Linked DNA regions of Homo sapiens. The protein of the gene in region 1 interacts with the protein of each later gene in a pairwise test. Each region holds a gene or a part of one and is shown in the gene's direction. Other genes may lie near its edges.

The links.
Region 2: the proteins of AXIN2 (region 1) and ZNF648 interact in binary tests that used the Homo sapiens proteins (3 or more experiments, as listed by UniProt).
Region 3: the proteins of AXIN2 (region 1) and PPP2R5A interact in binary tests that used the Homo sapiens proteins (3 or more experiments, as listed by UniProt).
Region 4: the proteins of AXIN2 (region 1) and AMOT interact in a two-hybrid assay, tested with the Homo sapiens proteins (one large-scale study listed by BioGRID).

Annotation. Positions count from the first base shown.
Region 1 is NC_000017.11:65,551,649-65,555,148, reverse strand, and holds part of AXIN2 (axin-2), read left to right. Parts: intron 1-3,500. UniProt on the Homo sapiens protein: Inhibitor of the Wnt signaling pathway. Down-regulates beta-catenin. Probably facilitate the phosphorylation of beta-catenin and APC by GSK3B.
Region 2 is NC_000001.11:182,056,392-182,058,712, reverse strand, and holds part of ZNF648 (zinc finger protein 648), read left to right. Parts: intron 1-639; 5' UTR 640-702; coding exon 703-2,321. UniProt on the Homo sapiens protein: May be involved in transcriptional regulation.
Region 3 is NC_000001.11:212,351,410-212,354,909, forward strand, and holds part of PPP2R5A (serine/threonine-protein phosphatase 2A 56 kDa regulatory subunit alpha isoform), read left to right. Parts: intron 1-1,408; exon of another isoform or gene 1,409-1,541; intron 1,542-3,500. UniProt on the Homo sapiens protein: The B regulatory subunit might modulate substrate selectivity and catalytic activity, and might also direct the localization of the catalytic enzyme to a particular subcellular compartment.
Region 4 is NC_000023.11:112,809,832-112,813,331, reverse strand, and holds part of AMOT (angiomotin), read left to right. Parts: intron 1-1,938; coding exon 1,939-2,083; intron 2,084-3,345; coding exon 3,346-3,438; intron 3,439-3,500.

The DNA of each region.
Region 1 (3,500 bases):
CACTCAAAGGAGCCTCGTTTTTAACGACTTGTTTGTGTCCTTACTGATTTGGTGTCAGGTTTAATATAAATAGTTGGGGCGGAAGAGCAGGAATTATCCTCAGAGGGCAGGACTCTGGTCTGAGTGGTTGAGGGGGATGCCTGGGCTTTTGACAATGGCTATAAATAACCTAGAGCAAAAGCAACTTGTTGGTAGGAGCACGTGTAAAATCCCCGGCACACAGACACACACACGCACAGTGTCGAGGTGTGTGCGAAGGGGGGTTGTGGGATTGGGCACTGGGCCCAGCATTTATTTTGGGGAGGAGAATAAGGTGCTGGGTGCACAGAGCCCTCCCTGTGTCCTCGCCTTTCTGCACGGGCCCTTGTGTGTCCTGCCCAAGGTGGGGCTCATCTGCCTCCCATTGGGCCCTCTGCTCTGGCCTCCCTTAAAAGAAGTCGGGCCCAGCAGATGGCCCTCTGCTGGCTCCGAGTGCTGCTTCCAGTTCTCTGAAAGAACTCGCTGATGAGGCCCGTTTTTGTGCGGAGCCATTGGAATCAAGCTTGGCTTCAATTATCAAAGAAAATGATGCCATAGGAAAGATATGCTGGAAGCAGTAGTCCACAATTAGAGGATGGAAGCTCTGGTGAGGGCAGTTTGCTAAGATCCACTTGTAAAAGTTTGCCTGTTTTCAAAAGGTCCCGTTGCCCAGTGCTGTTGGAGTCCTGGCCCCTTGCCGAGTGTCCCTTGATCTTGCCTTAGAAAATGCTTGTTGAAGAGGGTATTGCCTTTTGGGCAGTGACCTTGTGAGTAAATTTTCAGAGGGCTCTTGGAAAGCCCTGAACGCACAGACTTAGAAGCATATACTTTTGAAGTTGCATTGTTTTGAGAAGGGAACGTGAGGAGGAGGAGGAGGAAGAGGAAGAGGAGGAGAAGGAGGAGGACCCCTATGGTCAGTTCTGTCAGGTCAGTTCTGTGCTCCCTGCCTGGAGGCTCCCCTCTGGTTTATGGGGAGGGGCAGGGCCACAGCATCTCATTAAGAGGAGATAAGAACAGGATAGGGGAAAACAGAAAGCAGCCGGCACCTCCTTTCCCTGAAGGTTCCGGGGGTCTCTGCCACCTGCAGGCTGAAAACCCTTTGCTTACTGAGGTTGCAAACCAGGTCTGTGGATGTGAGGCTGATGCAGAAGCTGCAGCATAGGCCTCTACTCTGTGTAGGAATTTAAAATCCTTGCAGCAACTGGAAGCACAACAGTCCTGAGGAAATAAAGCATCTGGGTACAATTACTGTAGCGTGGTTTGAGTTTCCTCCCCCCCCCCCCGCCTTTTTTTTTAAGTAATCACAAGAAAACAGCCCCACTCCGTTTTCTTAAAATTATGTGGCACTTTTGACAAAGGTCTGGGTTCTGAAATACCGAGTCTCTGCCTCTCCCCACAACCCTGCCTCCTTTCTCTGCCCTGTCTTGTTATGATTGTGGGAAAATCCAAGTACTTTATTGCAGTCAACTGAGTTAAGAGCAGTATATTCCATTTTTAATTACTGGTCACACAGTAGTCCTCTATGTTGGAAGTGAAGGGAGACAAGTTTATTTTGGGATCCATGTGTTAAACAACGAGTGCAAAGCCGTGTGAGCACACATAGGGTTTGAGTTAGGTGTCTTTTTTGCTGGGAGGAAGGAATTTTCTATTGAGTCATTTTCTCCCCACAGAGGTTGAAGTATAGCTCTTACAGTGGAGACATGGTTGATGTGTTAATACCACCAAGATAGCAGGACTGAAGGCATGGAAGAAAGAGTGTTTGAATGCTATTTAAGGCTGTTTTGGCTTTTTTGGTGTTGCACCATGCCTGTTAAACTAAAAAACTTTTCCAGTGACCCATCTAATGGTCTTAGGTCCTTTAAGGAGAGTCAGCAAGGTTTTCAGTCACTGCCACGTGCCACTCACTACTTTCAGCGTCGGAGATTCGTGTGAGGACAGGGCTGTCCCTCATGGAGCTTACAGTCTGGTTTCACAGGACAGGTGTTCAACATGGAAACACCAGTGTCCAGTCATTATAGATCATGATAAAGATGATGAAGGAAATTAGGGCAGTTGAGAAAATGGGAGCTCTCTGGTTTTTTGTTTTTGTTTTTGTTTTTTTTGAGATGGAGTTTCATTCTTGTTGCCTAGGCTGGAGTGCAATGGTGTGATCTCTGCTCACCACAACCTTTGCCTCCCGGGTTCAAGCGATTCTCCTGCCTCAGCCTCCCGAGTAGCTGGGATTACAAGCACGCGCCACCACGCCCGGCTAGTTTTGTATTTTTAGTAGAGACGGGGTTTCTCCATGTTGGTCAGGCTGGTCTTGAACTCCCGACCTCAGGTGATCCACCCATCTCGGCCTCCCAAAGTGCTGGGATTATAGGCGTGGGTCACCGTGCCTGGCTGGGGCTCTCTGTTTTTGTTGGCACTCGGTTTTTTCTTGGAATTTTCCTGTGATTTCCCCCAAATTACTGTGCCTTTGTTGGTTCATTTGGAGGACCTCAGAACTTGGTGCAGAGGCCATGATCCAACTGCCTGCTCTTCAGGTGGGTGCCCACCTCTGGAGGGGTTGTGACTCAGCCCAGCAGTGAGCACTGCAGCCAAGCCGGCAGCAGTGCCCAGCCTCTGACTTCTGGTCCCTACTGAGAGTTTACAGAATGTGGCCTCATCACTGGATTCCTAACAACAGGAAAAGGCCCCAAGGAAGTCATCGTGTGCATCCTGCTTCAAGGCAGTATCCACGCCTTACTTACGCACCCAGATGGCTGGGCACTTTGGCCTGTTTTAAAGACTTGGGTGATTTCACAGCCTGTCCCCACCTACTTTATGGATTTCCTCTGACCATTTAGAAGTATTTTTTTCTCTCTAACTTTTGAAGTCTATTTCCCCTTGTTCTTCCTTTAGTGGGGATGCTGAACAGAGAGTCCCCCTTCTCAACTACGAGGCCTTTTTCACTGAATCAACCTTCTCTTCTCCAGAAGAATGAACTGTTCTTTTTACTCTCACCACTCCTCTCTGCCCTTGGTGTTGGGGAATTCCGGATTGAGGACACATGGACCAGGAGGAAGGCCTGGAAGATCTTACCGTTCTCATTTAATTTTCACCAAAAAAATCCCAGGAGGTCGTGAGACTTCTTGCCCTCTACAGATATGAGAACAGGGTCAGAGTGTCCAAGTGACGGTCACAAGTCACTTGGTCAAAAGTGTTGAGGGGTTCATGTGCAGTGCTCCTGGTCTGCACCTTCTGGTCAGTTCTATGCCTACAGCATATTTCTAAGATCTGACTTGATGCAGTCGGACAGGATCCAGGGCACAGCTGTGGTCCGGCTCCTCTGGCCAAGTCTGACAAGGCCTTTGGCCCACATGGTGCTAAGTTACCTCCTTGGGTGGTTGTGATGATTACAGGGGTCCCTTCTGGCTTAAAAAGTTTATGGCCCTGTAACTTTTTGTGTGTGTTTGGTGACTCCAACAAGCGCAAACTCCTTAAAGGCAGAGACTGCCTCT
Region 2 (2,321 bases), on another chromosome or scaffold:
TCCTGGCAGTTAGGAGTTCCTCAGAAGTTACAAGGGCCTGAGAAGCCCCGCTTAATCAGTGAGGGGCAACTGGTGCCTTCCTGACTCACCCTCATTCTCCCAAGGGCTGCTCCTTATCTTTGGAAGAGGTGGCCTACACAGCCCAGGGCCTGAGAGGTAACCCTAGCTGACACCATCATGGGATGGCAGACTTCCATTCCTGGCAGGGACAGCAAAAGCCAGCCTGGTTTCCAGCTTCCTGAGTGGGGGACACTGTAAGAGTGTCTTAGGAGGACCACAGCTTGGTTCCTACCCTCTCATCGAGTTGTCCCCCATGCTGACAAAGGACACATTTGGTTAGTGGTTGGGGATGAGCACCCTAGACAGGACAAGGCACAGCTGGCACCCAGCAAATGCCCCACCCTGGCTATTCCTGACAGCATGGTCTCCTGGGGCTTATAGCAAGTGGGATCTCCAGAGGGAATAGGATGACTGGAATTTTCAGCAGAGCCAGGCCTCTGTCCTCAGTGAGGCTCAACAATATGCCTGACATGGAGACCAGTTGGAAACAGAGCTATAGTGGGAACCTCAGTCCCTCTGCTCATGAAAGTGATTAAGTACATTCTTTGTGATTTTCTCTTCGTACTTTTCTTTTTGCAGGTATCCTGAGCCAAGCAGGATACTCCTCCTCAGAGGAGTAGGCAATAGAAGCGCCTGAACATCATGGCACAAGTGGACTCCCAGGACAGGTGGGGAGAGGCGTCTCCTCTCAGCAGCTTGACTGAGGAAGCTCATGACACCCAGATGCTGAGCATGAACTTAGAGAGTGACGATGAAGATGGTGGGGAGGCCGAAAAAGAGGGCACCGCTGACCCGGTGGCCTGTCCAAGGGGCAGCTCCCCAGTAACACACGAAAATCCTGACTTGCCATGGCCCCATCCACTGGGCAAAGAGGAAGAGAAATTCTCTGACTCCTCCAGTGCTGGGGGCATGGGGCAGAAACCAGTGGAAATGTCTGGGAAAGCCAGTTGGAGCAGAGATGTGACAAAGATCAACGAGACCCAGGGTTCCCCGGGAGCAAGCAGAGCTCTGGGTTCCCTTCCCAGTGGTCTCGCACACAAATTGTTAGGTCAGATGCAACCTCTTGGGGACCGACTACCTGCGGGTGATGATGGATACTCGGGGGCAAACCAGGACGCAGTCTTGGATGTCCCACCCAGCTTCCCCAGCAATGGAAAGTATCTCTGTGCGCACAAAAGTGTAGACACGTCCGCAGGGAACTCTTCTCTGTTGTGTTTCCCCAGGCCGGGGAGCAACTGGGACCTTCCCACGCAAGAGACACATACACCAGCCCAGGCGTCGGCCACCCCAGCCAGCCTGGCTGCCGCGGTCCTGGCAAAAGCGCGGAACAGCAGGAAAGTACAGAACCAGGCGGGCCGGCGCGAGGGCGGAGAGGCTGAGGCGCGTCCCTACAGGTGCCTGCGGGGCGGGCGGGCCTTTCAGAAGCCCAGCAAGCCGCTGAGCCCCGCGGAGACGCGCGGCGGCGCCGCCAAGCGCTACGCGTGCGAGCTATGCGGGAAGGCCTACTCCCACCGCGGCACACTCCAGCAGCACAGGCGCCTGCACACGGGCGAGCGGCCCTACCAGTGCTCCTTCTGCGACAAGGCCTACACCTGGTCCTCCGACCACCGGAAGCACATCCGCACCCACACAGGCGAGAAACCCTACCCGTGTCCAGACTGCGGGAAGGCCTTCGTGCGCTCTTCGGACCTGCGCAAACACCAGCGCAACATGCACAGCAACAATAAGCCCTTCCCGTGCTCCGAGTGCGGCCTGACCTTCAACAAGCCGCTGTCGCTGCTGCGCCACCAGCGCACGCACCTGGGCGCCAAGCCCTTCCGCTGCCCCGCCTGCGACCGGGAGTTCGCTGTGGCCAGCCGCATGGTGGAGCACCAGCGCGTGCACTCGGGCGAGCGGCCCTTCCCCTGCCCCACCTGCGGCAAGTGCTTCACCAAGTCCTCCAATCTGTCCGAGCACCAGACGCTGCACACCGGCCAGAGGCCTTTCAAGTGCGCTGACTGCGGCGTGGCCTTCGCGCAGCCCTCGCGCCTCGTGCGCCACCAGCGCATCCACACTGGCGAGAGGCCCTTTCCTTGCACGCAGTGTGGCCAGGCCTTTGCCCGCTCTTCGACCCTGAAGCGGCACCAACAGATCCACTCCGGGGAGAAGGGATTCCTCTGTGCCGAGTGCGGCAGGGCCTTCCGCATTGCCTCTGAGTTGGCCCAGCACATACGAATGCACAACGGAGAGAGGCCCTACCAGTGTGAGGACTGCGGCCAGGC
Region 3 (3,500 bases), on another chromosome or scaffold:
AAATTATAAGTAGCTCAGAGCTTTTGTTAGTTTATTACTCAAGCCTGTAATCCCAGCACTTTGGGAGGCTGAGGCAGGCAGATCACCTGAGATCAGGAGTTCAAGACCAGCCTGGCCAACATGATGAAACCCCATCCCTACTAAAAATACAAAAATTAGCCGGGCGTGATGGCGGGCACCTGTAATCCCAGCTACTTGGGAGACTGAGGCAGAATTGCTTGAGGCAGGAGAATGGCTTGAACCCAGGAGGGCAGAGGTTGCAGTGAGCCGAGATCACAGCACTGCACTCCAGCCTGGGCAACAGAGTGAGACTCCGTCTAAAAAGAAAAAAGTGCAGAGTGGAAGAATTAACTAAATATTCATTACAGCTAAGTTTCCATGTAAAGAGGAAAAAAATGAAGAGTCGGCATGACTTTCAAAACTTTTATTTTTTTGGCAGTGTAAACCTTTCCTTCCACTCAAAGCTGCATTTTTATAAAACAAGCAAAACAAAACAAAACACCGTTCTTATTCCAAGAAAATCTAACTTGAGCCCCAAAATAATTTTTTTATTTTTCTTTTTTATTTTATTTTATATTTTATTTTATTATTTTATTTTTATTTTATTTTATATTTTATTTATTTTTTTGAGACAGAGACTCACTCTGTTGCCCAGGCTGGAGTGCAGTCAGTGGCACCATCTCGGCTCACTGCAACCTCCACCTCCTGGGTTCACGCAATTCTTGTTCCTTAGCCTCCTGAGTAGCTGAGATAACAGGCGCCCGATACCACGCCCGGCTAGGTTTTTTTTTGTATTTTTAGTAGAGATGGAGTTTCATCATGTTGCCCAGGCTGGTCTCAAACTCCTAAGATCAGGCAGTGTGCCTTCCTTGGCCTTCCAAAGTGCTAGGATTACAGTTGTAAGCCACTGCACCTGGCCCACATTGACATCTTTTTGGGGGCCACTAGTCAACCCAGTGTTCGTTATTCAATACTGCCCGACATTGAAATTTGTGTATGATGAGGGTAAGGAACTACATTTGGGTTTGTTTGTTTGTGTTTTGGGTTTTTTTTTTTTTCAGACAGGATCTCACCACATCACCCAGGATGGAGTGCAGTAGTACGATTGTGGCTGACGGCAGCCCTGACCTCCCAGGCTCAGGTGATCCTCCTGCCTTAGCCTCCCAAGTAGCTGGGACTACAGGCATGCACCACCATGCCCAGCTAATTTTTTTGTATTTTTGGTAAAGATGAGATGGGGTTTCACCATGATGCCCAGGCTGGTATTGATCTCTTGGGCCCAAGCCTGCCTTGGCCTCCCAAAGTGCTGGGATTAAAGGCCTGAGCCACCATGCCTGGCCTGCATTCATTTTCAATTACGCATATCAAATGATCACAAAATTTATTGGCTTAAAATAGCAAGCATTTATGGCCTTTATCAAAGCTGCAGCTGCTTCCATGTAGCTGCTGTGGTCAAAAAGAAGCCAAGAGTGACAGTTTTCCTTGATGGTCATAGTTCTGTTTGCTGTAACTGATCTGCAAGATTTTGGGAAAATACCATTCCATTGGGAGGAAAAATGACAAGCATTTGTTGCCTTAGTTGCTGTGAATCCAGAATCTGGTCATGGCTTAGGTGGGCCCTCTGCTCAGGGTCTCTTACAAAGCTGCAGTTGGAGTGTTGGCCAGAAGTTGAGTCTCATATAAAGTGTCAGATGGGGAAGGATCTGCTTCTAAGTTCACATGTATGTTGGCAGAATTCAGTTTGTCAAGTTATGTTGGACTGAGAGCCTCAGTTCCTGGCTGGCTGTTGGCCAGAGCCCACCCTCAGATCCTTGTCACCCAGGCTTCTCCAGCATGGCACCTTACTTCATCAAAGCCAAGACAGCGAGTCTACTAGTAAGACAGAAGTCACAATCTTTTGTATCTTACTCATGAAGTGACATTCTTTCACTTTTGCCACAGTCTGTTCGTTAGAAGCAAGTCACTAGGACAGCTCACACTTAAGGAGAGGGGATTACACAAGGGTGTGAGGACAGTTAACAAGCTCATGAGATCATCATAGAAGTCTGCCAACCAAAGGAGCCTGCTACATTTTTCCTTTCTAAATAGTGAGCTACCTGTCCCAGTACCACCACTGTTTCCCATGGAACTGAAAGGCCACCTTTGTCATATATTAAAATCCATATATACATGAGTATATCTAGATACTCATATATATCTTTTCTCTCCATTTCTTTGCCAATATAATCTTGTTTTAGTTGCTGATATCCATAATACAGGTTCTGTTCCATTAACTCCCCCCACCAAAAAAACAATTCTTATTTGCTTATATTTATGGATTTTAGAATAAATGTTTCTAGTTCCAAAAAATAATTCAATTGGCATTTGATTGAAATTATATTAAATTTACTTATAAATTAAGTACAGGAAAAATATCTCTGCACAATATTGAACCACCTCACTTATTTACAGTCATGTGCTGCATAATGACATTTCGTTTAATAACAGGCTACGGGCCGGGCGCTGTGGCTCAAGCCTGTAATCCTAGCACTTTGAGAGGCCGAGGCGGGTAGATCACGAGGTCAGGAGATCGAGACCATCCTGGCTAACACAGTGAAACCCCGTCTCTACTAAAAATACAAAAAATTAGCTGAGCCTGGTGGCGGGCGCCTGTAGTCCCAGCTACTCAGGAGGCTGAGGCAGGAGAATAGCATGAACCCGGGAGGCAGAGGTTGCAGTGAGCCGAGATCGTGCCACTGCACTCCAGCCTGGGTGACAGAGCGAGACTCTGTCTCAAAAATAAATAAATAAATAAAAATAACAGGCTACATATAAAATGTCAGTCCCAGACAGGCGTGGTGGCTCAGGACTGTAATCCCAGCTACTTGGGAGGCTGGGGTAGGGGGATCTCTTGAGCCTAGGGGGTTGCAGTGAACTGTGATCACACCAGTGCACCCCAGCCTGGCCGACAATGCAAGTCTGGACTGTCTCTTAAAAAATAAAAATGGAACTGGGCATGGTTGCTCATGTCTGTAATCCCAGCACTTTGGGAGGCCAAGGTAGGAGGATTGGTTGAAGCCAGGACTTTAAGACCAGCCTGGGCAACAGAGCAAGACCTCGTTTCTACAAAAAGTAAAAAATTAAAATTAGCCAGATGTGGTGGCATACACCCGTAGTCCCAGCTACTTGGGAGGCTGAGGCAGGAGGATCATTTAAGCCTAGGAGTTCAAGGTTACAATAAGCCTAGGAGTTCAAGGTTACAATGACCTCTGATCATGTCACTACACTCCAGCCTAGGCAACAGAGTGAGGCCTCATCAAAAAGAGAGAGAAATGTTGAGAGAGAGAGAGAGAGAGAGAAATGTGATTCCAAGAGAAAGAAAAATGGTGATCCCATAAGATTATAATGCTATATTTTTACTGTACCTTTCGTGTTTAGATACACAAATACTATTGTTACAACTGCCTACAGTGCCTACGGTATTCAGTACAAGAACATCCTGTACAGGTTTGTAGCCTAGG
Region 4 (3,500 bases), on another chromosome or scaffold:
CCCCACCATCACCCAGCCCAAACCAGTGGATATATCCTTCTGTGATGGCTTTTCCTGGAAGGCCCTATTGAGAGCTGTGGGACTTGCCCTTTTGAAGGATGGAGTATCTACACAGGGGGTAGGGGAAGGATTAGTACAAGATCTTGAAATAGCAGTCTGCACACCTTGAGGAAAGGGACTACCTTCTAGGTGTTGCATTCTGTGCACAACCGGACAGCCTTGAACTATAAATGCTGCCCAGAGCAGACCAACACCAAGCCTGCTCTTTCAGATGGAAATGTTTATTTTCTCTCCCCAGCGCTTGAGTTTCATGCAAAAGCTTCATCAGGCGCAGGCCTTGCAGATCTTGTCTCTAAATGCCATTCACCAGTTTTCACCTTCTGTGCTGCTATCTTGGTGCCATCTGTGAAGAGAAAAACACTTTTGAGTCTGCTCTTTTCTGTGGCATAAGCCTTATTTGTTTGCAGGCAGTCCTGTCTCTGGCAGAATTTTGGAGATGGAGGCGGGTTGAATCTGACTGGTTTGGCAACCTTACCTTTCCCCTAGTGTCCCATTAGGGGCCTGATATTTCTTCCCTGAAAGTACCCTGAGCTTTGTTAAACAGGATAGTGGAAAACACAGAAGCAATGCAGAATGGTTGCAGAGTCCAATTTAATCTGAAAATTGCTTAATAGACCGTGGGTTTATTTGTCTTATACAAATTATATGCAAATATCTGTGTGGCTATTATATGTGCAATGGAGCTATACTAGTTACAGAAAAACTCTGGAGTCTAATTTCTCATTTTCGGCCTGATTGTGGCTGATTCAGGGGAAGACCCTTTCTCTCTGAGTTTATTTTCCCCATTTTATGAGATTTGCAGGGGTGTCATAAAACACAACTCTGATTATGATTTTGTGTTCAAAAACCTATACTGGTTTCCCATTGACTATGGGATAAAGTCCAAATGCCTGGCATTAAAAGCATTTTATGATCTGACTCCAATCTATCTTAGCAGCCATATCTCGCCAGGTTCCCTCTGCGTACCCCACAGTGTCCAGCCAAATTAAACGACTGGTCATTCTGGGAATGCATTTGCTTACTCAGAATAGAATACCCTTCCCCTCACCTCTGCTCATTGAAATCTGACCCAGCTTTCAGGATCTGACTGTAAATGCCACCTCTTCTCAGAAATTGTTCTCCTCCCCACTTCCCCAACCAGGAATAACTTCTTCCTTGTCTGTACTTTATGGCACTACTTCTACTTTTCTTAAAGATGTATCTTGCCCTATAGTCTTTCATTCGATTGGATTGAAACCTCCCTGAGGGCAGTGAGAATGTTCTCATTCATATTTACACACCCCCAATAGTACTTTAAAGAGTTCGTGTAAATATTTGGCCCTTGGTAAATGTTTGTTAAATTGAACTGAACTACTTCATGAAGCTTGGGGTTTTTAGGGTTGGTCTCTGCTGCTGACAGTTGATCTTCAGAGGCAATTTGACTTTTCTCTCTACTAAAATGAGAAGAGGTATCCTGTCTAGGCAGATAATCAGTGCAGACTGGAACCAACATGTGAAAGCCCTTTGAATGCTTTGGAATATCTACATACTATATATATTATTACTAATATTTTCAAAATTAAGAGTTTTCTTCAGAAATTAAAATCCTTTATAACTATTTATAAAATTTATTCTATCTTACCATCTCCTCTGAAGGCAGAAATTGTCTATTTTTTTAACCCGAGGAAAGACCATGACACCATGAGTTAATTACTAAGCTTATGGTTGAAGGTGGAGATCCTTTCTTGAAACTTGTGTCATCTGACTGTGTTATGCTTGCCTCCTGGCCATCTGTGAGCCCTGGGAGAAGCTGTCAGCGAGGATTTGCCTGTTTGTTTTCAGACCATTTTCCCCATCACCCTCCTACCATCACCACCATTGTCTTTTTTTGTTGTTAAGGTGGAGACAGAAATCCAGCGCGTCTCGGAGGCATATGAGAACCTCGTGAAGTCATCCTCCAAAAGAGAGGCCCTAGAGAAAGCCATGAGAAACAAGCTAGAGGGCGAGATTCGGAGGATGCATGATTTCAACAGGGATCTGAGAGGTGAGGGAACCAACAGACTTGTCTTTGTACTTCTGAAGCAGCTGCAGGGTGGTGAAGGGAAGGGCTGAGCAGGATCCAACTAGGCTCTTTGGGGTTGTCCAACCCACCGGTATGGGCAGTAAATGGCTGGGCATGTGCCAGGCTAATTTTTTGTGACTGCAATAGTCCTCAGTCCCAAGCTTGATTGATCAAAGTGTGGATGTACCTCACTGGTCTTCTGAGCAATGAGCTGATGTGTTAATCAGGCAGGATCCCTGCTGGGACTCCTGGACCCACCTGGCCCACCCCCACAATAGGTGCTGCCTCTTCTTTTTAACAGGTTTTACAGAGGCGTGCCCTTTGACTGCAAGCTTGAAGTATAATGTCCTCTCTTATTTCCAGGACTGACTGACTCCTTTTATTTTTGACTTTCACCTGATAATATTGAAGACTTTGGGAAATATTTCTACTTTAAAGTGCCTTCAGCACCTTCAAAACTGCTAACCTTGGGGATGGTACTTTCTTTTTTTTTTCCTTTTTCTTTTCTTTTTTTTTTCTTTGAGTTGGAGTCTTGCACTGTCGCCCAGGCTGGAGAGCACTGGCATAATCTCGGCTCACTGCAACCTCCACCTCCCAGGTTCAAGTGATTCTCCTGCCTCAGCCTCCTGAGTAGCTGGCTGGGATTACCAGCGTGCGCCACCATGCCTGGCTAATTTTTGTATTTGTAGAGATGGGGTTTTGCCACGTTGGCCATGCTGGTCTTAAACTCCTGACCTCAGGTGATCCACCCACCGTGGCCTCCCAAAGTGCTGGGATTACAGGCATGAGTCACTGTGCCCGGCCAGGGATGTTACTATCTTTGAATTTTGGTTATTTTATCTTTAAAGTCAGGGGGCCCAAATACATGCTGCTAGTTGTCCCTTTCAACTTTGACATTACATGAGTTTAAATACTTTATAATAACTGTGATACTCTTTTTTTTCTGGTTAATGAAAGATATCTTTATATATTTGGGGATGGATAATTTCATTGAAATTTAGAATTCTGCACTTAACTTAGGTTTTGGCAGTGAGGAGTGAAAGCATTAAATACTTACCTCCTCCTCCCCGGCCATGGTCTAGTATTATTTTGGGATTCACATTTGCAAACTCATGTTAGTCACCCATTCCTGTTTAACAAGAAGAAACAGGCTTGTTTTACCAAAGGTCAGTATTTAGAGGGCCAATAGTATGTGCATGAAAGTTTACATTTGAGACCCTGTTGATTGTCTCCAAATTTCACAGAGCGTCTAGAGACTGCCAACAAGCAGCTTGCAGAGAAGGAATATGAGGGGTCAGAGGACACCAGAAAAACCATCTCGCAGCTCTTTGCAAAAAGTAAGTCTGCAAGCTGCAGAAACAGGTATTAACGTGTGGATGGGAGCAAGGTGCGTGAAAAG